7 linked regions of the Homo sapiens genome follow. The protein of the gene in region 1 interacts with the protein of each later gene in a pairwise test. Each region holds a gene or a part of one and is shown in the gene's direction. Other genes may lie near its edges.

Evidence for each region.
Region 2: the proteins of PECAM1 (region 1) and TMC6 interact in binary tests that used the Homo sapiens proteins (3 or more experiments, as listed by UniProt).
Region 3: the proteins of PECAM1 (region 1) and KIAA0408 interact in binary tests that used the Homo sapiens proteins (3 or more experiments, as listed by UniProt).
Region 4: the proteins of PECAM1 (region 1) and RBM17 interact in binary tests that used the Homo sapiens proteins (3 or more experiments, as listed by UniProt).
Region 5: the proteins of PECAM1 (region 1) and LASP1 interact in binary tests that used the Homo sapiens proteins (3 or more experiments, as listed by UniProt).
Region 6: the proteins of PECAM1 (region 1) and KLRG1 interact in binary tests that used the Homo sapiens proteins (3 or more experiments, as listed by UniProt).
Region 7: the proteins of PECAM1 (region 1) and NPFFR1 interact in binary tests that used the Homo sapiens proteins (3 or more experiments, as listed by UniProt).

What each region holds. Positions count from the first base shown.
Region 1 is NC_000017.11:64,380,861-64,384,360, reverse strand, and holds part of PECAM1 (platelet endothelial cell adhesion molecule precursor), read left to right. Parts: intron 1-3,500. UniProt on the Homo sapiens protein: Cell adhesion molecule which is required for leukocyte transendothelial migration (TEM) under most inflammatory conditions.
Region 2 is NC_000017.11:78,111,756-78,115,255, reverse strand, and holds part of TMC6 (transmembrane channel-like protein 6), read left to right. Parts: intron 1-1,631; coding exon 1,632-1,708; intron 1,709-2,044; coding exon 2,045-2,108; 3' UTR 2,109-3,500. UniProt on the Homo sapiens protein: Acts as a regulatory protein involved in the regulation of numerous cellular processes. Together with its homolog TMC8/EVER2, forms a complex with CIB1 in lymphocytes and keratynocytes where TMC6 and TMC8 stabilize CIB1 and reciprocally.
Region 3 is NC_000006.12:127,445,890-127,449,389, reverse strand, and holds part of KIAA0408 (uncharacterized protein KIAA0408), read left to right. Parts: intron 1-1,649; coding exon 1,650-2,982; intron 2,983-3,500.
Region 4 is NC_000010.11:6,099,034-6,102,533, forward strand, and holds part of RBM17 (splicing factor 45), read left to right. Parts: intron 1-2,237; coding exon 2,238-2,354; intron 2,355-3,500. UniProt on the Homo sapiens protein: Splice factor that binds to the single-stranded 3'AG at the exon/intron border and promotes its utilization in the second catalytic step. Involved in the regulation of alternative splicing and the utilization of cryptic splice sites.
Region 5 is NC_000017.11:38,918,558-38,922,057, forward strand, and holds the end of LASP1 (LIM and SH3 domain protein 1), read left to right. Parts: intron 1-47; coding exon 48-221; 3' UTR 222-3,213; downstream 3,214-3,500. UniProt on the Homo sapiens protein: Plays an important role in the regulation of dynamic actin-based, cytoskeletal activities.
Region 6 is NC_000012.12:8,988,258-8,992,345, forward strand, and holds the start of KLRG1 (killer cell lectin-like receptor subfamily G member 1), read left to right. Parts: upstream 1-1,288; 5' UTR 1,289-1,378; coding exon 1,379-1,460; intron 1,461-1,954; exon of another isoform or gene 1,955-2,088; intron 2,089-3,948; coding exon 3,949-4,053; intron 4,054-4,088. UniProt on the Homo sapiens protein: Plays an inhibitory role on natural killer (NK) cells and T-cell functions upon binding to their non-MHC ligands.
Region 7 is NC_000010.11:70,263,505-70,267,004, reverse strand, and holds part of NPFFR1 (neuropeptide FF receptor 1), read left to right. Parts: intron 1-613; coding exon 614-928; intron 929-3,500. UniProt on the Homo sapiens protein: Receptor for NPAF (A-18-F-amide) and NPFF (F-8-F-amide) neuropeptides, also known as morphine-modulating peptides. Can also be activated by a variety of naturally occurring or synthetic FMRF-amide like ligands.

The sequences.
Region 1 (3,500 bases):
GGTGGTGGTTGTGGCGGTAAAAACTAGGTCACTGTTTTTGTTGTTTTGTCGATGATATTTGTGTTAAGATGAAGAGCTGAGACTCATATCTCAACAGAGTTTATAAAATGCTTTTCTTTTTTCCATCCTGCCCTCTCTTCTCCCTTGTCTGTTCGAGCTAGCCATGGGAATGTGGTGTTCCTGCCAGTGCATCCATTGAGTTCGTTTATTGTTAATTTATTTATTTTCTGAGATGGAGTTTTTGCTCTATTGCTCAGGCTGGAGTGCAATGATGTGATCTTGGCTCACTGCAACCTCTACCTCCTGGATTCAAGTGATTCTCCTGCCTCAGCCTCCTGAGTAGCTGGGATGACAAGTGCCCGCTACCATGCCCGGCTAATTTTTGTATTTTTAGTAAAGGCTAGGTTTCACCATGTTGGCCAGCGGGTCTCGAACTCTTGACCTCAGGTGATCCACCGACCTAGGCCTCCCAAAGAGCTGGGATTACAGGTGTGAGCCGCCACACCCTGCCGAGTTTGTTTATTTGAGCAGATAATGTGTGTTAGAGTTGCTTAGAAAAACAAGATGGTGGACGGGCCCCATGCTAGTGGGTACCATCCCTACTGGAAAAACCACTGCTTGGTGCATTAGCCAAATTTGCTTTAAAATTGTTTTTTAAAAAGGGAGGGCTTTTATAAAAATCAAATGAACTAGGACTGGTTAGTGGGAGGCTCACGCAAGGGTTGTGCTGAGGCTGGAAGGCCCAGAGTAGGAAGAGTTGTGGAGTGCAGAATGAGCTCTCCAAGGGCAGACACTGCCAGCCTCACTGTTCTCTGAACCCCCAGTATGGGGGACAGTGCTTGGCACAGAAAAACCCCCTTAAATGTTTGCTATGAATGGTGCTAAGGAAGAAGGCAGAGAATGTCAACCAGAGGCCAGGCACTGGGCAATATATACACGGCCCCTTCTGTGCCCTCAGCCACTTTGGCGCAGTCACTGTTTAGGTTAAAGATACCAGAGAAGGCAGGTATTCATGTTCCTACTTCGTAGGCAGAGACGTGGTGGCCCAGAGAGGTTAAATAACTCCCGAGATCACCCAGCTAAGCACTGTGGGATCACGGGTTTGAATCTGGTATGTCTGACTCCCTTCTGTACCCAGCACTGTCTGCTGGTCTAGGGCATAACCAGCCAGGGATGGGCAGCTCGTTCAGTAAACAGGAGAGCAGATGAATGACTCGTGTGGAGAGCACGCAGTGGAGTGAGCAAAACTGGGAGGCTGGAGAAGTCGCTTTAAATTAACCTGAAAATGTTTAATATGCTTTTTATTTTGTTTATTTTTTTTGAGATGGAGTCTATCTTTGTTGCCCAGGCTGGAGTGCAGTGGTGCAATCTCGGCTCACTGCAATATCCACCTCCCAGGTTCAAGTGATTCTTCTGCCTCAGCCTCCCGAGTAGATGGGATTACAGGCAACTGCCACCACGCCTGGCTAGTTTTTGTATCTTTAATAGAGATGGGGTTTCACCATGTTAGCCAGGAGGCTGGTCTCGAACTCCTGACCTCAAGTGATCTGCCCAGCTCAGCCTCCCAAAGTTCTGGGATTACAGGCATGAGCCACCACGCCCAGCCTTAAATATGGTTTTTATTTGAAAAAAAAAAAAATCCCTAGAAACATGTAGTGGAGACACAGCTTTAAAGCTCTGAATAGTTGATTTTCAGCTCATGCCTGTAATCCCAGCACTTGGGGAGGCTGAGGCGGGATGATTGCTTGAGGCCAGGCGTTTAAGAATAGCCTGGACAACATAGTAAGACCCCATCTCTAAAAAATTAAAATTAAAAAATAAAAAAAGAGTCGACTTTATTTCTGTAACTGGAAGAATCTAGCTAACATTTCTCAAGCACTTTATAGGTGCCAGGAACTCTACTTTAAGTAATTAAACTCAGGTTCTCATTTATACTTACATTCCTTGTGCCTATTGTATGGATAAGCAAACTGAGGCTCAGAGAAATTTAGGGACTTGCCAAAGGTCACACAGCTTTGTTAGTAGCAGAGATGAGATTTGGCCCAGGTCTGGCTCCGTGCACTTGATTTCTGCTCTTTAGTATCTCCTGGTTGAGTCACTGGAATACACAGCATAGCTTAAAATGAAGGAGGAAGTACTGAAGAGGTAATGGAAGGAGACCTAACTGTCTCTGAGAGGGAAGAGAGTGGTTGGGAGGGAACTATATTAATTGAGGAGTGCAGAGAAATTAATATGGTCCAAAGGAAAAAAAGGTTTTTTTGAGATGGAGTTTTGCTCTTATTTCCCAGGCTGGAGTGCAATGGCATGACCTTGGCTCACTGCAACCTCTGCCTCCCAGGTTCAAGCAGTTCTCCTGCCTCAGTCTCCCAAGTAGCTGGGATTACAGGCGCCCACCACCACACCCGGCTAATTTTGTATTTTTAGTAGAGATGAGGTTTCACCATGTTGGCCAGGCTGGTCTTGAACTCCTGACCTCAAGTGATCCACCCGCCTCGGCCTCCCAAAGTGCTGGGATTACAGGCATAAACCACCGTGCCCGGCTGGTCCAAAGAAAGTTGTGTGTCGAGAGCTCATCCAGCAGGCTTCTTAAATCAGGAGCTTGTAAGTTGCATATAAAGACAAAAAAGGGAGTTCCAAAGAGTAATGCTGTGGGAAATGACTTGAATTTAAACCGTCACCTTGTTTCATCTCATGGACTGGTCAGACACCATTTTTGTTGTCGTTGTTGTTGTTAAATTAATTGCTCAGAATATAGCAGCAGGCGCAAATTGTAGTACTCGTTTTAAAATTGAAGATTAAATTTTAAATTACCCAACAAAGGCCTAACTTTGTTAAAAGAGAGGGAAAGGACAGGTTCTGCCAGTATCTCTGGCCAGCTAGCTAACTAACTTTTTTCTTATTCCAAAAAAATGACTTGGGACCACTTATAAAAATTATGTATTGTTCAATGAGATACAATTAATGAGGAAATCAGGATGAGAGAAAAATAAAGGCAGGGAAATAAAGCTATGGCCCATTTAGCACAAACGCATCCCAAAGATTGCTAGAAGCAGAGGTGAAATTTTTGCTGTGTGTTAACAATCAAAGCAAAAAGAGGAACAAGGTCCATTAGAACATTCTCAGAATCCACAAGATAGAAATGAATCAGTTGTTCAGCATAAACACAGTGTTTCCTGGTGCTGTTGGAACACTTTGTGAAATTAGGGACAATATCTCATCAACATCCCAGACCAACATCCCAAAAGACCATTTAATAGCTTGCATCTGTGCTTCTCCCTACCCCATAGCCCCTCCCTCCAGAGATGACCACTATGCTGACTTGTAAAATATTAATCTTATATCCAGCCACCTTTCTTTTTCGTTTGTTTGTTTGTGTTTTTGCAGACAGAGTCTTATTCTGTCGCCCAGTGCAGTGTTGTGATCTCAACTTACTGCAACCTGTGCCTCCCAGGTTCAAGTGATTCCCCTGCCTCAGCCTCCCAAGTAGCTGGGATTACAGG
Region 2 (3,500 bases), about 14 Mb from region 1:
GGCAGCCATGTGACCCTGCTGCTGGCTAGTTGGTGCCAGGATCCAGGGCTCCAGGCAGCTCGTCCCAGCTCGTCCCAAGCACTCATGGGACGGCTCCCACATTGCTTGGGTTGTAAACACTGTAGTACACACTGTCCCATCTCCTGCCTTTCCCGTTTCACCACATAGAGCTGAAAGCCTGGCATCTCGGCTGCGGTGGTTGTCTGGCTGTAGATATTGGAAGTGGGGAATGGCTCCTGCCCTACTGGGTGGCATTTCAGAGCCCCCAGGGGCCAGGTAGGGCCAGGTGGGTCCGGGCGGGGAATGCAGAGTGGTGCTGGGAGAATCCCAGCTCTACCCACCGTTGCTCTGGGATGGGAAGGACCTTTCTCCAGGCGGATGCTGGCTGTGGTGTCTACCCAAGGCCGAGCTCTGACCCGTCTTTGGGGCTGTCGGTCTGAGTTTTCCCCGTGCAGGTCGGCATGGCTCAAGTGCACAGCCCCTCCATACTCATCAGCAACTCGATAGAAGCTACTTAGGTTGTTGCTTAAGGGGCCCATGGTCTCTCCTTGAAGGTATTCTAAGTGGTCCTCCTAGGCTGAGCCAGGTTGCCAGGTGCCCAGAGCCAATCCGTGTGGCTCTTGACAGAACTCCTGTTCTCTGTGTGAAGCTCCGGGCGGGGAATCCCGGTCTGACCCAGGCACTGATGATCAGTGTTTCGGTGCACCAGATCCTTTGCTAAGTGCCCCCTCTGCTTGTCACATTTCATTGTCGAAAGAGCCCTGGGTCAGTCCAGTACTGGCCCCAAAGATGTCCCCGTCCTAAGACTGGATGGAGCCTGTGAATACGTTACGTTGCGTGGCTGGGGAATTACGATTGCAGGTAGAATTAAAGTTGCCAGTCAGCTGACTTTGGATAGGAGATGGCCCTAGATTATCGTGGTGGCCCAGCGTGATCTCAGGGTCCTTAGAGGTGAAAAACAGAGGCCGGAGTGTCAGGGTCAGAGTGGTGCCACGTGAGCAGGACTTGAGCAGCCACTGCTGGCTTTGAAGTGGAGGAAAGGGCTGAGAGCCAGGGGCCTCTAGAAGTTGGAAAAGGCGAGGAAGAGGATTCTCCCCCGAAGCCTCCGGGAGGAATGTAGCCCTGATCATGCTTGACTGGAGCCCAGTGAGACTCATTTTGGACTTCTCACTTCCAGAACTGAAAGTTGAGAAACCGGTGGTGTTTTAAGCCACGAAGTTGATGACAGTTCGTTACGACAGCAGCAGGAAACTAATGTAAACCCTGTGCCTTGTGTTATTATCCCCCTTTACAGATGCTGCCACTGAGGTCACAGAGTTAGTAACCCAAGGCAGAGCCAGTACGTGGCAGGGCTGGTTTTAAATTGAGTCAGGCTGGCTCTGGGCTGCTGATTACATTTCCCTTTTCACTTTGGCCACTAGGAAGCTTAGATCCACACATACGCCCACTTCCTGGCTCTTGGTTTTTCCTTGTCCTTGTTTGGTGGCCCTTTCACCTTTTCTTTTATGTTTTTGCTGCTTGCGATGTTGAATACACCTCGTGAGTTTTCCCTCAAATGCAGTTTGGAACAGGATGGCTCTGGATGGGCTGATGGATGATTTCTCCTCCCCTTTGTGTTCTGGCCTTTCTAGGAGGGTGAGGACAAAATCTTCTTAATCAACAAGCTTCACTCCATCTACGAGAGGAAGGAGAGGGAGGAGAGGAGCAGGTGAGGGTCCGTGGAGGGATTGGGGACACTCTGAGCCTGGAGGGGAGAGGGGCCAGGGCTGGACAGTAGGGCTGCCACTGGGGCTACACCACGACATTGCTGACACTTGACCGCTTTTGACCTACAAAAATCTCCCCCCCGGCGCCCACCTTCACTCTCTCTAGAGCCTTCTCTGGCCTCCGGAGCCTGGCCATTTTGACAGGGACCTAAAATACATCTCAGGAGAAAGGCTGTGGGGCGTCTGGCCTGTCCCTCGCCGGGCCTTGGCTGCGCCCAGCCAGGTTGCAGGGATGTTGATGTTTATGGGGTCCCCTCAGTGATGTCTCTTTCTGGCAGGGTTGGGACAACCGAGGAGGCTGCGGCACCCCCTGCCCTGCTCACAGATGAACAGGATGCCTAGGGGGACGGCGATGGGCCTCACGGGCCCGCCCAGCACCCTGAGACCACACTGTTGCCTCCCAGTGACCCTGCTGGGACACCAGGACAAGGAAGACAGTTTCGCCTCTCGAAAGCCGCAGCTGCGCCTAGGCTGGAGCTGGAAGGGTGGGTGAATCCGGCTTGGGCATCCCCAATGAACTCTGCCCTGCCTGGGACTCTATTTATTCTGATTAAAGGGGTTTTGCAAATGGGCTTGTCCCTTGGGGCTCTGTGTCTGTGACCACACCCGGGGCCTGCTTCCCGCTGCCCTGGGGCCACCTCCAGGCGCAGGTCTGGGTCCTGGGAACCTCAGCTGGAGTGGGGGCGCCCTCTGCTGGCCAAGCCCCAGATGGCAGGGGCTGGACCGCGCCAGGGCTTGATTCGCTTGCTGCCTTTGACCAGCCTGAACTCGCGCCCAGGAGGGGCTTACACCTGCACAAGTGAGCCGAGCAGGCACGGATTGTGACCAGAGCGATGCGTCAACCATTGGGTGATGCTGTAGCATCTACTGGAGCAGGAGACAAATTTAGAGAGGGACTTGGAGGGGAGACATATCAGTTGCAAATGAGTTGTGGGGACAGTTGCCTCCCAGGCATAGGTAACCAGCACCTGTGCTTGGAGGCGAACAGGGCTTGGTGAGGTGGGGCTGGCCCCCTGCTTCTGGCTGCCAGCAGCTGGCTGGGGGGTGGTGATCCTGGGTCTGACTGGGCTGAGTTTGAGGAGCCCGTGGGATACCGAAAACCGTAGGCTGTGGGGGGTGGGCACAGGGATTCGGGGACCAGCCCGTCATGACCCCGTGCTCCAGGTCTGCAGGGACCAGCCCATGACAGCCCAGGGCTCCAGGTCTGCGGGGACCAGCCCATCACAGCCCAGGGCTCCAGGCCTGCGGGGACCAGCCCGTCAGCCTCAGTTCTCCAGGCCTGCGGGGACCAGCCCGTCATGACCCCAGTGCTCCAGGTCTGTGGGGACCAGCCCGTCAGCCTGTGCTCCAGGCCTGCAGGAACCAGCCCGTCAGCCTCAGTGCTCCAGGCCTGCGGGGACCAGCCCGTCAGCCTGTGCTCCAGGCCTGCGGGGACCAGCCCGTCATGACCCCAGTGCTCCAGGTCTGTGGGGACCAGCCCGTCAGCCTGTGCTCCAGGCCTGCGGGAACCAGCCCGTCATGACCCCAGTGCTCCAGGCCTGCGGGGACCAGCCCGTCATGACCCCAGTGCTCCAGGTCTGTGGGGACCAGCCCGTCACGGCGCAGGGTTCCAGGCTTGTGGGGACCAGCCTGTCACAGCCCAGGGCTCCAGGCCTGCAGGAGCTGCGCTTGGGATTGGGGGAATGAACCCAGGTGGGGAAATGGTCAAAGAGCGATGGGCCCAGAAAAGGGTCA
Region 3 (3,500 bases), on another chromosome or scaffold:
GCGTGAGCCACCACGCCAGGCCAGAAACTGTAATTGTATATTTCTCTGTTCACTAATTCTTAAAGCAAATCTTCCAATTCTCTTTGTAATCTATTAGTAATACTTTACTCTTTTTCGTGTCTAATTAAGGTAGACCCTCCATAAAAAATCAGTAAGTAACCTCTAAAGTAGTTCTTTCTCATTCTGAGCATTTGGACAATGAAAGTGTACAACTGGGCTAATTCAGTTAAACGTATCATTAAACGATGTCAGAATTAACAGTGTGGCGTTTTGCTTATATAATCATGTTCTACTAAAATATTTAATGCTTAAGAGCACTTTATTTTGCTTCAATTCGTGTTTATGTAATGGAGGCCTACATACTTTTCAGAACAACATATTGTAAATATGTACACATGTACGCGTGCCACAAAAAATGCTGTTTCCATTTGGAAACAGTATATACTTAATAACAGTAAGTTTTAGCCAAATTAACAAATATATTGGAATTCTCTACAAGTTTAGTAAAGATGGATTATTCTAGGATCAACATTTATCTCTCCTCGTGGGTCAGTAGGCTTCCTACATTCCCTTATTTTTCATTAGTTGTTAGGAAGCTCAGAAAGAATTTTTGTGCTGACTTGCAATAGATTTTCTTAGCCAATCATGTTTTAAACATAACTTTGTCCTCTATTTGCCTATTTAGCTTTTCTATTCTCTGTTAATAGGTATTTATCCACATTTTATTGTAAGCTATCCCATAATCTTTTATAATTTGAAGAGGTATAAATATGATTTATATTTATCAGTGTGATTAAGTTTGAATTGCGATATTTAGTTTTTTATTTAATATAACTCAGAAAAGACTTACTTGCCAATTTTCTTTTACAAATCACACCTAATATAATGTTCTTATTGTCACCCCATGGACTTTAGAACAAGGTTCAAGATATTTGTAATTCAAAGACATTACAATTTGACATAACCTAATGTTTCTCTCTCATTTTTCATTATCCTCCCCACTCTGCTTTATAATTAATCCATATCAAAGTACTCATTTTCCTTCGAGTAGCCATAGTATTTAATCCTTTTGCCTTTTACTTCAATCCTATATGCCTTTTACTCAAGTCATCCAAAAAATTTTTACTTTTTTTCAAGACCAAATGACACTTTCCATTTGGAATTACTCATATCTCATTGCACTTTTATTCAGATTTGTATCTGACTACTTAAAATGTTATTTCAAATTCAAGGAGAAGAACTTGAGCTCACATTACATAATGAATAAGAATTCAGCAGGCAGAGAGAAGGTAAGGGAATGGCAAGATAAAAGCTACAGAGAGAGAAATGCCAGTAGCAGAAACCCAGGAGACTACATAGTTTAATCTGAGGGTAGGTGAAGTCTCAGGTAATAGTGAAAATGAGAGACAAGTTTGGAAAGAGTTTGAGTCAGAGTGTGTAGAGCATTGAATATAACACTGAGAGGTAGACTTCATTCCACCATAAAAGGACTTGAAGTTTTTGACTGGGAGATTTATGTAAAAATGATGTATGAGGCAGTTGTGAATCCTTTTCTTATAGCAGAAACTCATTGCTTTAGCTATGTTTGCTTTTGAGAGCTTATTCTAAATAAAGTTATAACCAATACACCATGTTTTATCATTGTTTAGGATGAAGTCAGATTCTTTTCTCCAGGAAATGCCAAATGTAACTAATATACCTCATGGGGACCCCATGATCAACAATGACCAGTGCATTCTTCCAATCAGTTTAGAAAAAGAAAAACAGAAAAACAGGAAGAATCTGAGCTGTACCAATGTGCTCCAGAGCAATTCTACGAAAAAATGTGGAATTGATACAATCGATTTAAAAAGAAATGAAACTCCACCAGTTCCTCCTCCAAGAAGCACCTCTCGAAATTTTCCCAGCTCGGATTCTGAACAAGCCTATGAAAGATGGAAGGAAAGGTTAGACCACAACAGCTGGGTGCCCCATGAGGGTCGAAGTAAAAGGAATTACAACCCTCACTTCCCTTTGAGACAACAAGAGATGTCTATGTTGTATCCAAATGAAGGGAAAACTTCGAAAGATGGTATCATCTTTTCCTCTTTGGTACCAGAAGTCAAAATAGATAGCAAGCCTCCAAGTAATGAAGATGTTGGACTTAGCATGTGGTCATGTGACATTGGGATAGGTGCAAAAAGGAGCCCCTCTACTTCGTGGTTTCAGAAAACCTGCTCTACCCCCAGTAATCCAAAATATGAAATGGTGATCCCAGATCACCCTGCTAAATCTCATCCTGATCTTCATGTAAGTAATGACTGTAGCTCCTCAGTAGCAGAGAGCAGTAGCCCACTTAGAAATTTCAGTTGTGGCTTTGAAAGGACTACAAGGAATGAGAAGCTGGCAGCAAAGACTGATGAATTTAACAGAACTGTATTTAGAACAGATAGAAATTGTCAGGCAATACAGCAAAATCACAGCTGCTCAAAATCATCGGAGGATCTCAAGCCCTGTGATACCTCATCTACTCACACAGGTAGCATATCACAAAGTAACGATGTGTCCGGTATTTGGAAAACCAATGCCCACATGCCTGTGCCCATGGAAAATGTGCCTGATAATCCCACCAAGAAATCCACAACAGGCCTAGTAAGACAAATGCAGGGACACCTAAGTCCTCGCAGTTATCGAAATATGCTCCACGAGCATGACTGGAGACCGAGTAATTTGTCTGGCCGTCCGAGGTCAGCTGATCCCAGGTCAAATTATGGTGTTGTGGAAAAGCTGCTGAAAACCTATGAGACAGCAACAGAGTCTGCATTGCAAAATTCTAAGTGCTTCCAGGATAATTGGACCAAATGTAATTCTGATGTCAGTGGTGGTGCCACATTAAGTCAGCATTTAGAAATGCTCCAAATGGAACAACAGTTTCAGCAAAAGACAGCTGTGTGGGGGGGACAGGAAGTGAAGCAAGGAATAGATCCGAAAAAGATAACAGAGGTGAGAAAGCAAATATAACATAATTTGGTAGCATCCATATTAGCAATGGCTCTGAATCATGTTTATATGTCCAATTCATATAAATAGAATGAGGGCACAAGTTTTGGACTCTTCTTAGCCTCTTGACCCTGTTTGTAAATAAATATAACTCAACATGAACCTTGAAGGTGTAGTTTTTAACACTGAGAATAGTACATTGTAACTTTTGAAAAATTCTGAAATGGGATAACATAAATACAGTAAGTGGATTTAGGAACCTGAAGAAGATCAAATGTTTGCTCTTTCTTGAAAAAATACTCAGAATGGACATTACTCAATTTATAGAATTTCATTATTTTAAAGGTTCTTTTTTAAGTGTATGGAAAATATTTTTAAAATCGTTTTCATTTTTCAGTTATTAACTATGATTGGTTCAGTCATTCTCAGCATTTGACTCATGTTCTTTCTCATAGGATTAATCACATTAATATGAATATGGGAAATACACATCATTTAAAACAGTGCCTAATAGAGTCCTT
Region 4 (3,500 bases), on another chromosome or scaffold:
AAACAAGGTTTCATTCCAAATGTAAGGAGGGTTAGCAAAACCTCGTTTTTCTCTTTAATTTTTTTTAAAAGTACATTTATAAAATCTTTGTAGATTTCATGTAACTTTTGCTTTGCAGGGAAGATGCAGGTGTGAGCCACCGTGCCCGGCCTCATATAGATTTTTAAAACTTGAGGTAGCTTGTGAAGTTATTTCTACTAACTTTATAAAACTTTTGAGATTGCTATGTACAGTTAGTTTTGTGGGTTTTTTTTTTTAAGGGAAGTGAAGATTGCATTCTCTTAGGCTGTTTAGTTACTCAGAATACTAGATTGGCCTAGCCAAACCTGTAAAGGTATTTATTTGGTAGAGAAAATTTGAAGCTGTGGTTTCATTTGTATCTCCATTTGAAAAAATACAGTTGTTTCTTGGTGTCCACAGGGGATTGGTTCCAGGACCCCCCTGCCCATACCAAAATCCAAGCGTGCCCAAGTCCCTTATATAAAATGGTGTGGTATTTGCACGTAACTAACACACATCCTCCCATATTTTAAATCATCTGTGGATTGCTTGCAATACCTAACACAATGTAAATGCTGTGTAAAAAGTTGTTATACCGTATTGGTTTTTTTATTTGTATTTTTTGTTGTATTGTTTTATTTTCTTAATATTTTCAGCCTGGGGTTAGATGTGGAACCTGTAGATACAGAGGGCCAACTCTATATTGAATAGAAAATAATAATAATAGAAAATATGTGATTCTGGCTGGGCGTGGTGGCTCACACCTGTAATCCCAGCACTTTGGGAGGCCAAGGCGGGTGGATCACCTGAGGTCAGGAGTTTGAGACCAGCCTGACCAACATGGTGAAACCTTATCTCTAATAAAAATACAAATATTAGCCCGGTGTGGTGGCGTGCATCTGTAATCCCAGCTACTCTGGAGGCTGAGACAGGAGAGTTGCTTCAACCTGGGAGGCGGAGGTTGCAGTGAGCCGAGATCGAACTCCAGCCTGGTGACAGAGCAAGACTCCATCTCAAAAAAAAAGAAAGAAAGAAAATATGTGATTCTAATAAATCCCCCTTCCGTTCTGTAAACTTTCGTATTTACTTTGTGAGTTGTTAATTGGATTAAATTTTGTTTGCTTAAATTTATAAGTATTGTTATATTCAAGAGAGATGAAGGCTTATTTTGTGCCTTTTATAGTGGTAATGAAAATTTGTAACACTTTAAATTGCAAAAGAGAAAAATTAAACCTTTCTAATCAAAAGATCTAATGGTTACCACCATACCCATATGATCAACCTTAGCATTGCTGTTAGACGGCCTGACGCAGTGTGCCTGCTGTGTGTTGCAGGAAGGGGCACACTGCCTCACCTGGGAAGTGTTCCTGCCTAAAAGCTTTACCCTGAATTCGATCAGGCCTTTAACCTCCAGGTTTCAGGAATTACAAGGCATAGAGGAACAAGCTCAACTAAATAACCAGGTAGTTATTAGACAGATCTAGAACAAACAGCATTTTACAAGATAGTGTCAGAGGAAAAAAAGGAAGAGGAGATGAAGATGATGGTGATGATGATGATGGGGAAGAGGGACTGTTCTTAATCAAGACACTTAAAAACCAAAAGCATTTCAGGAACTTTGGTAGGATCCTGGTTCAAAAAAAAAATCAGCTGTTTAAAGGACATTTTTGGGATATCTTGGAGAATCTGAATGTGAACTGGATGGGAAATGACATGGGAATTAGTGATTTTATTAGGGGTAGTAATCTGACAGGAGAATGTCCACGGTTTCAGGAGATTGGGGTGAAGTGTCATGATGTCTCCAACTTTCTTTCAAATGGTCTAGCAAAAAATACAGGTGTAAGGGCAAGAAGTATGGTAGAACATTAACAATAATTGAATGTATAGAAATGATTTTCTTTTAAAAACTTTTTTTTGTAGATTCATAATAAAGGAGATAGGAAGGATTCTATATCCTAGTAGGAGGGAACAAAACTCTTATCCCCAAGTATCTTTTGAAAGTGACTAAGTTTACTGTAAACCTTTCACAGAAATGGAGAAAATCTCATGTTTTTGAAAAAGCTGAAAGAAAATAATATATGATTATAGTAATAAATTAAAAGGCTGTTGTTTTGAGATTATGGTTTTCTCATATCTCAAAGGTTTGTTGCAGGGACCAGAAAGAAAATCTTTGTTGCAAACAGTGTGAATTTTAATTTGAAACTTCAGTATGTTTTCCTTGTTTTTGATGATTTTAGAGCCAAAGGACGAAACAAAGTACAGTCCTCGCCCCAGTCATTGACCTGAAGCGAGGTGGCTCCTCAGATGACCGGCAAATTGTGGACACTCCACCGCATGTAGCAGCTGGGCTGAAGGTAAGCCCGCGCCTGCCTGTGAGCTTGATACGTGTCTCTGTTCCCATGTGGCTTATTTTGCATATGAGTTACTCTTAACAGATGGCCTCCTTGGTGGGCCTTTGAAACCAAGTTAGTATCATTTTCCACCTAATTTTTACTTCTGTTTTGCCAATTTTAAAATGTATCTATTTGAAATTAAATAGTTTGTTGTAGAAAAATCAGAAACTAGAGATACGCAGAAAGAAAAACAAATTACCTTCAGTCATACAATCCGGAAGTGAAAAACGTAATATTTTTCCATCCTGTGCCTACTCCACCTTCTGCTAACTTGCTTTTCTTACTTAATACGTTGTGACTCTGTCAAAAAATACAGGACTGTATGATCACGTTTATGGCTTCACTATATTCCCTTGTATATAGATGGACTATAATTTAATTCCTTTAATGCTGGATATATGGGTTGTTTCTATTTTTTGCTATCATAAACAGTGTTAGTACTTACTGATTTATTGTGGATTAAAACAGAGAAAGGGGTTTTAAAACCCACTTCTACCACCCTAACCTGTATGATTCCAGTGATTTTACATATGCTTAAAAACAAACATGTGGTCAACTCTATAAATTGGGTTATTGAGGATGAAGAAGATCTGGAAAAGGATAACTCAAAATCATAGTTAAAACTAGACAAAATGAGGTAAAATGAGTGAATAAACTAGTTAAAATTATACCCACAATTTAAGTATACATTTATCTTTCCACAGATGGCGTTCAAATAATGACTGTGGTCATTTAAACAGCATCATGAATTGCACAAAACCGCTTGATGAAAAATGACCAAAAGATTAATAATAGTGCTATCGAGACAGTTTCTTAGCAAGGCGCGCCTGTCCTCCCCACCACCTGTGGGAAGGGCTGCATCAGGCTGGGGCAAAGGGCACACTCCTGCCCATCTGTTTCACGTCACTGTTCTGGGTTGGGCTCCGTCTCCTGCCTGTCCTGCTTATGTTCTGGGCCAGTCTGTGGCTGCAGCTTACCCTTGAGTTGTCCTTTTCTGAGGGGAGCGGGTGCTGTTCCTGAGGGCTGGTAGTTCTTCTGGAGGGGAAGCACCACATGGTGGAGGTGTTTTTTTGCTGATTCCTAGTCATTGAGCATTTTCCCCCATAA
Region 5 (3,500 bases), about 25 Mb from region 1:
GGTGAGCCGGCATGCAGGGCCCTAGGCTGACCACACTTCCCCCACAGAAGCGGTACCGCGCGGTGTATGACTACAGCGCCGCCGACGAGGACGAGGTCTCCTTCCAGGACGGGGACACCATCGTCAACGTGCAGCAGATCGACGACGGCTGGATGTACGGGACGGTGGAGCGCACCGGCGACACGGGGATGCTGCCGGCCAACTACGTGGAGGCCATCTGAACCCGCAGCGCCCCCATCTGTCTTCAGCACATTCCACGGCATCGCATCCGTCCTGGGCGTGACCCGTCCATTCTTCAGTGTCTCTGTTTTTTAAAACCTGCGACAGCTTGTGATTCCTACCCCTCTTCCAGCTTCTTTTGCCAACTGAAGCCTTCTTCTGCCACTTCTGCGGGCTCCCTCCTCTGGCAGGCTTCCCCCTTGATCGACTTCTTGGTTTTCTCTCTGGATGGAACGGGCATGGGCCTCTCTGGGGGAGGCAGGGCTGGAATGGGAGACCTGTTGGCCTGTGGGCCTCACCTGCCCCTCTGTTCTCTCCCCTCACATCCTCCTGCCCAGCTCCTCACATACCCACACATTCCAGGGCTGGGGTGAGCCTGACTGCCAGGACCCCAGGTCAGGGGCTCCCTACATTCCCCAGAGTGGGATCCACTTCTTGGTTCCTGGGATGGCGATGGGGACTCTGCCGCTGTGTAGGGACCAGTGGGATGGGCTCTACCTCTCTTTCTCAAAGAGGGGGCTCTGCCCACCTGGGGTCTCTCTCCCTACCTCCCTCCTCAGGGGCAACAACAGGAGAATGGGGTTCCTGCTGTGGGGCGAATTCATCCCCTCCCCGCGCGTTCCTTCGCACACTGTGATTTTGCCCTCCTGCCCACGCAGACCTGCAGCGGGCAAAGAGCTCCCGAGGAAGCACAGCTTGGGTCAGGTTCTTGCCTTTCTTAATTTTAGGGACAGCTACCGGAAGGAGGGGAACAAGGAGTTCTCTTCCGCAGCCCCTTTCCCCACGCCCACCCCCAGTCTCCAGGGACCCTTGCCTGCCTCCTAGGCTGGAAGCCATGGTCCCGAAGTGTAGGGCAAGGGTGCCTCAGGACCTTTTGGTCTTCAGCCTCCCTCAGCCCCCAGGATCTGGGTTAGGTGGCCGCTCCTCCCTGCTCCTCATGGGAAGATGTCTCAGAGCCTTCCATGACCTCCCCTCCCCAGCCCAATGCCAAGTGGACTTGGAGCTGCACAAAGTCAGCAGGGACCACTAAATCTCCAAGACCTGGTGTGCGGAGGCAGGAGCATGTATGTCTGCAGGTGTCTGACACGCAAGTGTGTGAGTGTGAGTGTGAGAGATGGGGCGGGGGTGTGTCTGTAGGTGTCTCTGGGCCTGTGTGTGGGTGGGGTTATGTGAGGGTATGAAGAGCTGTCTTCCCCTGAGAGTTTCCTCAGAACCCACAGTGAGAGGGGAGGGCTCCTGGGGCAGAGAAGTTCCTTAGGTTTTCTTTGGAATGAAATTCCTCCTTCCCCCCATCTCTGAGTGGAGGAAGCCCACCAATCTGCCCTTTGCAGTGTGCAGGGTGGAAGGTAAGAGGTTGGTGTGGAGTTGGGGCTGCCATAGGGTCTGCAGCCTGCTGGGGCTAAGCGGTGGAGGAAGGCTCTGTCACTCCAGGCATATGTTTCCCCATCTCTGTCTGGGGCTACAGAATAGGGTGGCAGAAGTGTCACCCTGTGGGTGTCTCCCTCGGGGGCTCTTCCCCTAGACCTCCCCCTCACTTACATAAAGCTCCCTTGAAGCAAGAAAGAGGGTCCCAGGGCTGCAAAACTGGAAGCACAGCCTCGGGGATGGGGAGGGAAAGACGGTGCTATATCCAGTTCCTGCTCTCTGCTCATGGGTGGCTGTGACAACCCTGGCCTCACTTGATTCATCTCTGGTTTTCTTGCCACCCTCTGGGAGTCCCCATCCCATTTTCATCCTGAGCCCAACCAGGCCCTGCCATTGGCCTCTTGTCCCTTGGCACACTTGTACCCACAGGTGAGGGGCAGGACCTGAAGGTATTGGCCTGTTCAACAATCAGTCATCATGGGTGTTTTTGTCAACTGCTTGTTAATTGATTTGGGGATGTTTGCCCCGAATGAGAGGTTGAGGAAAAGACTGTGGGTGGGGAGGCCCTGCCTGACCCATCCCTTTTCCTTTCTGGCCCCAGCCTAGGTGGAGGCAAGTGGAATATCTTATATTGGGCGATTTGGGGGCTCGGGGAGGCAGAGAATCTCTTGGGAGTCTTGGGTGGCGCTGGTGCATTCTGTTTCCTCTTGATCTCAAAGCACAATGTGGATTTGGGGACCAAAGGTCAGGGACACATCCCCTTAGAGGACCTGAGTTTGGGAGAGTGGTGAGTGGAAGGGAGGAGCAGCAAGAAGCAGCCTGTTTTCACTCAGCTTAATTCTCCTTCCCAGATAAGGCAAGCCAGTCATGGAATCTTGCTGCAGGCCCTCCCTCTACTCTTCCTGTCCTAAAAATAGGGGCCGTTTTCTTACACACCCCCAGAGAGAGGAGGGACTGTCACACTGGTGCTGAGTGACCGGGGGCTGCTGGGCGTCTGTTCTTTACCAAAACCATCCATCCCTAGAAGAGCACAGAGCCCTGAGGGGCTGGGCTGGGCTGGGCTGAGCCCCTGGTCTTCTCTACAGTTCACAGAGGTCTTTCAGCTCATTTAATCCCAGGAAAGAGGCATCAAAGCTAGAATGTGAATATAACTTTTGTGGACCAATACTAAGAATAACAAGAAGCCCAGTGGTGAGGAAAGTGCGTTCTCCCAGCACTGCCTCCTGTTTTCTCCCTCTCATGTCCCTCCAGGGAAAATGACTTTATTGCTTAATTTCTGCCTTTCCCCCCTCACACATGCACTTTTGGGCCTTTTTTTATAGCTGGAAAAAACAAAATACCACCCTACAAACCTGTATTTAAAAAGAAACAGAAATGACCACGTGAAATTTGCCTCTGTCCAAACATTTCATCCGTGTGTATGTGTATGTGTGTGAGTGTGTGAAGCCGCCAGTTCATCTTTTTATATGGGGTTGTTGTCTCATTTTGGTCTGTTTTGGTCCCCTCCCTCGTGGGCTTGTGCTCGGGATCAAACCTTTCTGGCCTGTTATGATTCTGAACATTTGACTTGAACCACAAGTGAATCTTTCTCCTGGTGACTCAAATAAAAGTATAATTTTTACCTGCGGACTTGGTTTCCTCTCTGGCTCTGAGCTGCTGTTGTGTGTGTCTGTGTGTGGGTGTGTGTCTCTAGCTGTAAGGTGCTGCTGTGTGTGTGTGTGTCTAGCTGTAAGGTGCCACTGTGTGTGTGTGTGTGTGTGTGTCCTGTCTGCTTGGGGGCACTGGCCTGTGGCCCTCCTGGGACCTCTGCTGCCCCTCGGGGAGAGAATGACTTGTCTGGATGCCAAGGGGGAGTTTGCTGCTGTCTGTCAGGCCCTTGGCCCCTACTTCCTCCTTGCTGAGAACTCCCCACCAAC
Region 6 (4,088 bases), on another chromosome or scaffold:
CTCTGTACTAGAAAGTGGTCCTAGATAGAAAGCTAGGGTGATCATTGCACTCACCTTTGTATTCTCTCAAGGATCACAATGCTGCCTGTGTGTTCCTGAAAATAGCTGCCTTGTGTGTCTTGCCATGTGTTGTATTTTGATTGGAGAGTAAGTCTAATGCCATTCTGTCATGGCTGGAAGCAGAAATATATTTGTTTTTATTAATATAAAACAAATTAATATAAAGCACTCCCTGTTTCTCTTCTTTTATCCTTATGCAGTCTATCTTGATGATCTTATCCACTCTTAAGAGTTTCAATACTCTTTCTGTTTCCTTACTTTAACTTTTGTTTTTTTTAGACGGAGTTTCACTCTTGTTGCCCAGGCTAGATAGAGTACAATGGTGCAGTCTCGGCTCGCTGCAACCTCCGCCTCCCGGTTTCAAGCCATTCTCCTGCCTCAGCCTCCTGAGCAGCTGAGATTACAGCCCCCACCACCACACCCAGCTAATTTTTTTGTATTTTTAGTAGAGACGGGGTTTCACCATGTTGGCCAGGCTGGTCTTGAATTCCTGACCTCAGGTGATCCACCCTCCTTGGCCTCCCAAAGTGCTGGGATTACAGGCGTGAGCCACCACACCTGGCCTACTCTAACTTTTTATTAACTTTTCACCTACTAAAAACAAATTACTAAGATGTTAGAATGTATTTGTTTACTTTGCTCTTCTTTTTAGTTATCTTTGCATGAAGTATAATAATAAAAAAAATAAGACAACAAAGAGAAAAAATATAATGGAATTTCTGATACTGTGAAGGGTAAAGACCATCACACAATTTGGACAAGGTTTTGGGGAAGATGTGGTCATGTCATATTCACAAAATATATCTGGGTAATAGTCTATTTCTCCCGTGATTCCAGGCATATGCACCCAACAGTCCATTTCGTTATTGCTTATCACTGCCCAAAAGTTCCAAGAAATGATGAAGTCAGTCTCATTTGGCATACATCTACTTTTTCAGAAGGAAACAAAGCAGAGAAAAAATTCCGAGAGAAATTCATAGCTAGTAACCACTCTCACTTTTATTTTAGTTTCCATAACTGAAATTGCTGGACTTGAGAGCAATTTTTCCTTGCTCAACAGAATTAGGTGAGATGGGGAATCAATTTAATATATATTTAGTGAGCATCTACAGTGTCATGGGGCAAAAAAATAGCAACTTACAATATTAATTTCTATAGGCAGCCCCCAAATTTGAATCATTTCCTGAAAAATTACTTCTGCTTTTGTGAAGTTTCCTGCTAGCAGTTTAGAGATTGGGCTGTTTCCTCACTGATACATATCCCTTCACACTTCTATAATTTAACTCTCTCAACTGCATGTGAAAGATCTTAGCTGAAGATGACTGACAGTGTTATTTATTCCATGTTAGAGTTGCCTACGGCAACCCAAGCCCAGAATGACTATGGACCACAGCAAAAATGTGAGTTAACCAAGGTAGCATGGAAGACGATGCATAGCAACAGTAGGCTATGGATGAATGGGGAGTAGAATAAGTTTAAAGCAGAGGGTGCAGAAGAATTGAGGATAATTTGAGGAAATACTTTTGGTTCAGTTTAAAGTCCAGAGTTGGAATATGAAAAGTTGGTGTATGGTACAGGATCTGATCTTAGGTCTCAGGTAAACTCTTTTCTAACTGTTCACTTCTTTGATCGCATCTTAGAAACCCAACTTAGGGCATTGCCGTTATTCCTTCTTGCTCTTAGCTAAAGCGGGAACTTTGTTGGGAGAATTTTATCTCTTTAGTTATATTCGGAGTAACCTTGGACCAGCTGTTTAAATTCTAGGTATGGCTGTTTTTCTGACTATGGAATGAGGAGGACACCAATAGTTTTGCTGGTGGATACGAGTAAGATTTTTGTCAGGAAAGAAACTGATTTACATATCTAGTTTTGTTTTTTTTTTTTAACTTCACAGTGTTGCACTAGAATGGTGACAGGGAAGAAAAAGTATCAAGAAACTACAGATAATAGTCTCTGTGACTGAGGATTTGAAGGCAAAAGAGCCATTTTTACATAGAGCCCTGAGAGAATATTATCTGAGACAGACAGGTAATAGTGTAAATGCCAAAATTAATCCTTGATTTTGTATCGTAGGCAGTGAACTCCCACAAGGTGTATTCTTTAGGGTAGTTCCCTAAGCTTTCTCTCTTTTTACTACATAGTTTTACTATTATAATTTTTAATGTCTTTTGAGAGTGTTGCCTTAATTTGCTAAATCATTCTAGTATACTTGGGATATTTAGACCTATTTCTATTACCATAAATTATATAGCATTGGATATCTTTATTTGTGTAACCTTTTCCTATTTTTGAATTGTATCTATGTTAATTTCTAAGGAATAGAAATATTACGTTAGAAGTAATGCATATCTCAAAGTATATGTTCAAGGTCACACACACAACTGGTGATAAATTGGAACCTAGTTGGAACTATTTAGAGGCTTTCAATATATACTTAAAGTAAATTTTAAAAATTTACTTTACTTCTTGAATTGGCTTGTGGTTACACAAATTCAATTATGGTTTGATACCTTTTTAAAATTTAGCATAACATAAAAATGAACATTTGTGTATTTCATTAAATGTTCTCCTGTGATGCAAATGTATTTTTAAAAGTTTTTCTAGAAATCTTAATGCTTTTGGATTCATCAGTCCAAATATTTATTATGCAGAATTCTCTATTTATGAAGGCATCTCTCATTATGAATTTTTTTCTTTAAGAAGTTCAGAATACTCCATAGATACACACATATATAGAATAATTTATCTAAAATTTAATCAGAAAATTGAAGCCCAAATAGGCAAGTTTAATTTCCTAATTAAATGTTATTAAGCAAAGGAATCAAAATTAGAAGTTAAATATCATCTTACTTCACAGAGTTTTGCTCGTTACACGTAATTTCTACACTATTGCACTATGAGATACCTTTGATTTTAAAATAAAGATTTGCTGAAAATACTTCCATTTTTCAAATTTAAAATTTAGATTTCGGTTGTATGCAACACAGCTAACATGAAGTAGTGTCCTATTCTTAAACTTGGCATCAACTTAAACTTACTGCTCTTTTAATAACGACAGTTTACAAAGCACTTCTGAAATGTAGATTATTTTTATTTAAATTTTATGTATTTCAATTTCGAGTAGATAATATGTTTACATGGTTCAAAATTCAAAAGGTACAAAAGAAAATAGGGTAAAAAGTCTTTTTCCTATTTTGTCTCCAGTGACTGTTTTTTCCATTCCAGAGGCAAACAATGTTATCAGATTCTTGAGTGTGCTTGCAGAGATATTTGTATATCCTGTTCTGCAGAATGTTTCTTTGTCTTGACTATATATCTTACAAAATATTCCATATCAGTTAAAAAAAAAGCCAGTTTTTATTAGAAGCTATATATTCACTTTATGGATATATCAAAAATGTATTTGACTGGCCTTTTACTGATAGAATGTAGATTGTATTCAGTCTTCTCCTCCTACAAATATTGCTGCCACGAATAAATATGACATTTTGCACCCGCGAGTATCTGTAGGAAAAATTTCTTAAGGAGAAATTTCTAGGTCAAAGGGTACATGCCTTTGCCGTTTTGGTAGATATTGCCCAATTGTCCTCCAAAGAGGTACCAATTTGTATTCTCACCACCTAAGTATGAGACAGTGTAAGTCACAGTTTCAAAGGAAAAAAGCATTCTTTATCTTGATAAATATAGTAAGTTCTTTGATACAGGTGTTGGTGGTTACCTTAGACTTTAGAGCAAGTTCCTGACACATCTAGAAAAGGAATCTTTATGGCCTGGATCTCAGTTCCCACTAGGCCAAATTGCTTTAAGATGCGATATCCTTCCCTGACTTTCTCTTTTCTTTCAACCTGTCATCTGACTCAGGATTGTGCTTTGACTCTGTTGTTGCAGCTTCCTCTTCCAGGCCTTCTTGTTCTTGCCTTGTGGCAATAGCTTTGGGGCTTCTGACTGCAGTTCTTCTGAGTGTGCTGCTATACCAGTGGATCCTGTGCCAGGGTAAGTGCAAACTTAAACCAAAATTAATCTTTCAT
Region 7 (3,500 bases), on another chromosome or scaffold:
GAAGCACCCAGGGACTCACAACCACAGGAAGCTGTTACCATTGAGTGCAAGGAGAGGGAAGAGTGTTACTGTAGTCAGGTGAGGGCTAGAGCCATGAAAGGGGACTCACCCAATAGGAGCAGGCTGTGGCTATAGGGAAAAACAGCTGCTGAAAGAATTGGGCCAGGCAGGAAGGGAATCAGAAGACAAACACCCTGACCTCTCTCTCTGCTCCTGCCCTCCCATCTCCTTCAGGGCCTGGCATTGGCTGAACCCAGCTAGAAGCCAGAAGACAAGGGAACCAGGGCAATGCAGAACTTAGAGGTTAGCCTCTGGGGCACACAGGAGGGCCAAGAAAGTTGGAACCTAAATGGGATGGGGGAGTTAATAAAGAAAAACCAACATTGGAGAATGAGTTATGGGCAAGACAGGGCATGAAGTACAAGACCAGGGTTTGAGTGGTTGTAGGCTGAAAGTCTTGGATCAGTGCATCAAGTTGCAACTGGAGCTGGGGACATGCTTGGGGGACCAGGGCATGGTTAAGGTTTGGCACACAGAGGGTCTCATTAGTGGTGAGAAATCGGTAATCTCTTCTTTGCCTAAGGTCCTGACCAATATATTCCTTTGGTCCTAGGGGAGCCCTCCCAGCCTCCCAACAGCAGTTGGCCCCTAAGTCAGAATGGGACTAACACTGAGGCCACCCCGGCTACAAACCTCACCTTCTCCTCCTACTATCAGCACACCTCCCCTGTGGCGGCCATGTTCATTGTGGCCTATGCGCTCATCTTCCTGCTCTGCATGGTGGGCAACACCCTGGTCTGTTTCATCGTGCTCAAGAACCGGCACATGCATACTGTCACCAACATGTTCATCCTCAACCTGGCTGTCAGTGACCTGCTGGTGGGCATCTTCTGCATGCCCACCACCCTTGTGGACAACCTCATCACTGGTGAGTGCGGGCAGTTGGCAGCAGGAGTGTCCCCTACCCCCCACTTCAACTTCTCAGATAAGGCTGGAAATCAAAGCTTAGAAGACAGATATCATTGCTGGGCTGGCCTCTTGGCCATGCCGTGGTCTCGAACTCTCAAGACAGTCTTGGGGCTGAAGAGTTAGACTAGAAATAAGAGATTTAATGAATTTCCTGTTTTCTTTGTGCCTGGCATGATGTTACTTCTCATGCATTATCTTAATTCATCCTCACAACAATCCAGTGAAGTAGAGTTTATGGTCCTCCCCATTTTATGGAAGAGGAAACATGCTCGGAGTGGTTAAGAAACTGGTCTGTAGTTACACAGCTAATAGGTGTCAAGGTCAACATTCTCACACCCATACTTCTAATTATTGTATTATACCATTCAGTCCCACTCTCTCACGGAGCTCGCATGGGCAGAATTAGAGCCAGTGGGGAGAAGTGGAAGGGAGGCAGGTTTCCTCTGAATCGGGAACGAAAACTCCACTCATTTGAGCTGGAAATTGAGCAGGGCACAGAAGAGAGTCCTGCCTGTAAGTAATGAGCTCTCTGTCCCTTGGAGTGTCTAAGCAGGGACTGGCCGGCCACTCAGTGGACCACTTGACCTCTAAATTCCTGCCGGTGCATCCTGCAGATGTCAGAACAGTGCCATCTACTCTCTACTCTCTCATGCGACTGGCCTTTCTTGTTTTAGAATCAAGTTTCCACCAACCTGAGACTCCAGGTGAGGGACTGGTTTTCAGAGATATGGAGACCCCTAGAGGTCTGAGCCTGCAGATTCTGAGCTCAGAGCTCCCAGCAGCTCACTGGTCCTCAGGATCCAGAGCCTGGACAGCCCTATTCAGAGTGACTTCACTGACTCGGGGCAGAGGGAGCCACAGCCCACGTTTCTGTAGGTTCTAGGACCCAGGATGTGGAGCCAGTGCAGAGTCAGCTCCCCTCCACAGTACCAGCTCTGTCTGGTGGAACCGTTACCCACTGCTGAGTCCCAGCTTCCTTTGCCAATGCTGAACATAAACTGCATTCCTCTCCTTTCCAACACATAGACACACACACGTGTACTCAGGCACACATGTGCAGAGATGCACACATGCATACACATAAATACATGCATACCAGTCAACAGTGATATAATGAGGTCACTAGCTGGTTAAGGTGGCGTCTCCCCATCTTTTTCATACACTCATATTTAAAATATTGTTTGAATACATAAAACATTCAGATGATTCAATAGTCAAAAACTACCAAAATTCTCCAGTGAAAAATCTCCCTTCCGCCCCTGTCCTCTGGCCTCCCAGCTCTTCTCCCTCCTGGGAGGCAACCAGTGTTGCCAGTTTCTTGTGTCTCTTTCAAACACTATTTTATGCGAGTGCAAGCAAATTGAGGACATGCTAAGGTTCCAAACAGCCAGTCCCGTACTTTTACTTCCCACCACACCCCACTTAAAAATATACCATGTATGCTGTAAAAAAGATTCATTAAAATAAACTTACATGTTGTTATCCCATATTAATAAATAAAAGAGTTTCTCACTATTTTCACCAACTGCTTAGAATTCCATTGTATGGATGTACTACAATTTATTTTGATTTGTATTTATGTTGTTTCTAATAGAATCTTCTGCAATTAAATAAAACTTCACACAGCTTCACTATTTTTTCTTTCTTTTTTTTTTTTTTTTTTTTTTTTGGAGTCTCACTGTCACCCGGGCTGGAATGCAGTGCTGGGATCTCGGCTCACTGCAACCTCCGCCTCCCAGGTTGAAGTGATTCTCCTGCCTCAGCCTCCCGAGTGGCTAGGATTACAGGCTTCTGCCACCACACCCAGCTAATTTTTGTATTTTTAGTAGAGATGGGGTTTCACCATGTTAGCCAGTCTGGTTTTGAACTCTTGATCTCAAGTGACCTGCCTGCCTCGGCCTCCCAAAGTGCTGGGATTACAGGCATGAACCACCACACCGGCCTCTTTTTTTTGAGACAGTCTCACTCTGTCATCCAGGCTGGAGCGCAGTGCACGATCATGGCTTACTGCAGTCTCAACCTGCCTGGGCCCAGGTCCTGGGACTACAGGCATGTGCCACCACCAATGGCTAATTTTTCTATTTTTTGTAGAGATGGAGTTTTGTCATGTTACCCAGGCTTGTCTCAAACTCCTGGGTTCAAGCCATCTGCCCGCCTCAGCCTCCCAAAGTGCTGGGATTACAGGAGTGAGGCACCATGCCCAGCTTTTTCTTCCTTTCTTTCTTTTTGTTTTGTTTTGTGTTGGTTTTGTTTTTTTTTTAACTCACATACAGAAGGTTGAATCATTCATTCAGTTTACAGTTCATGGCACTATGTGATTTCACTCTGTTGCAAAGCTCTTCTTTTGTTTATTTGTTTCCTTCTATATACCTATTCCACTCTACATCTCTTCTCTGACCCATAGGCAGCCATTCTGTTATATTTCTGTCTTTTGTATGCATTCTCAGAAAATGTGCTGTGAATGGCCGGGCGCGGTGGCTCATGCCTGTAATCCCAGCACTTTGGGAGGCCAAGGCGGGTGGATGACAAGG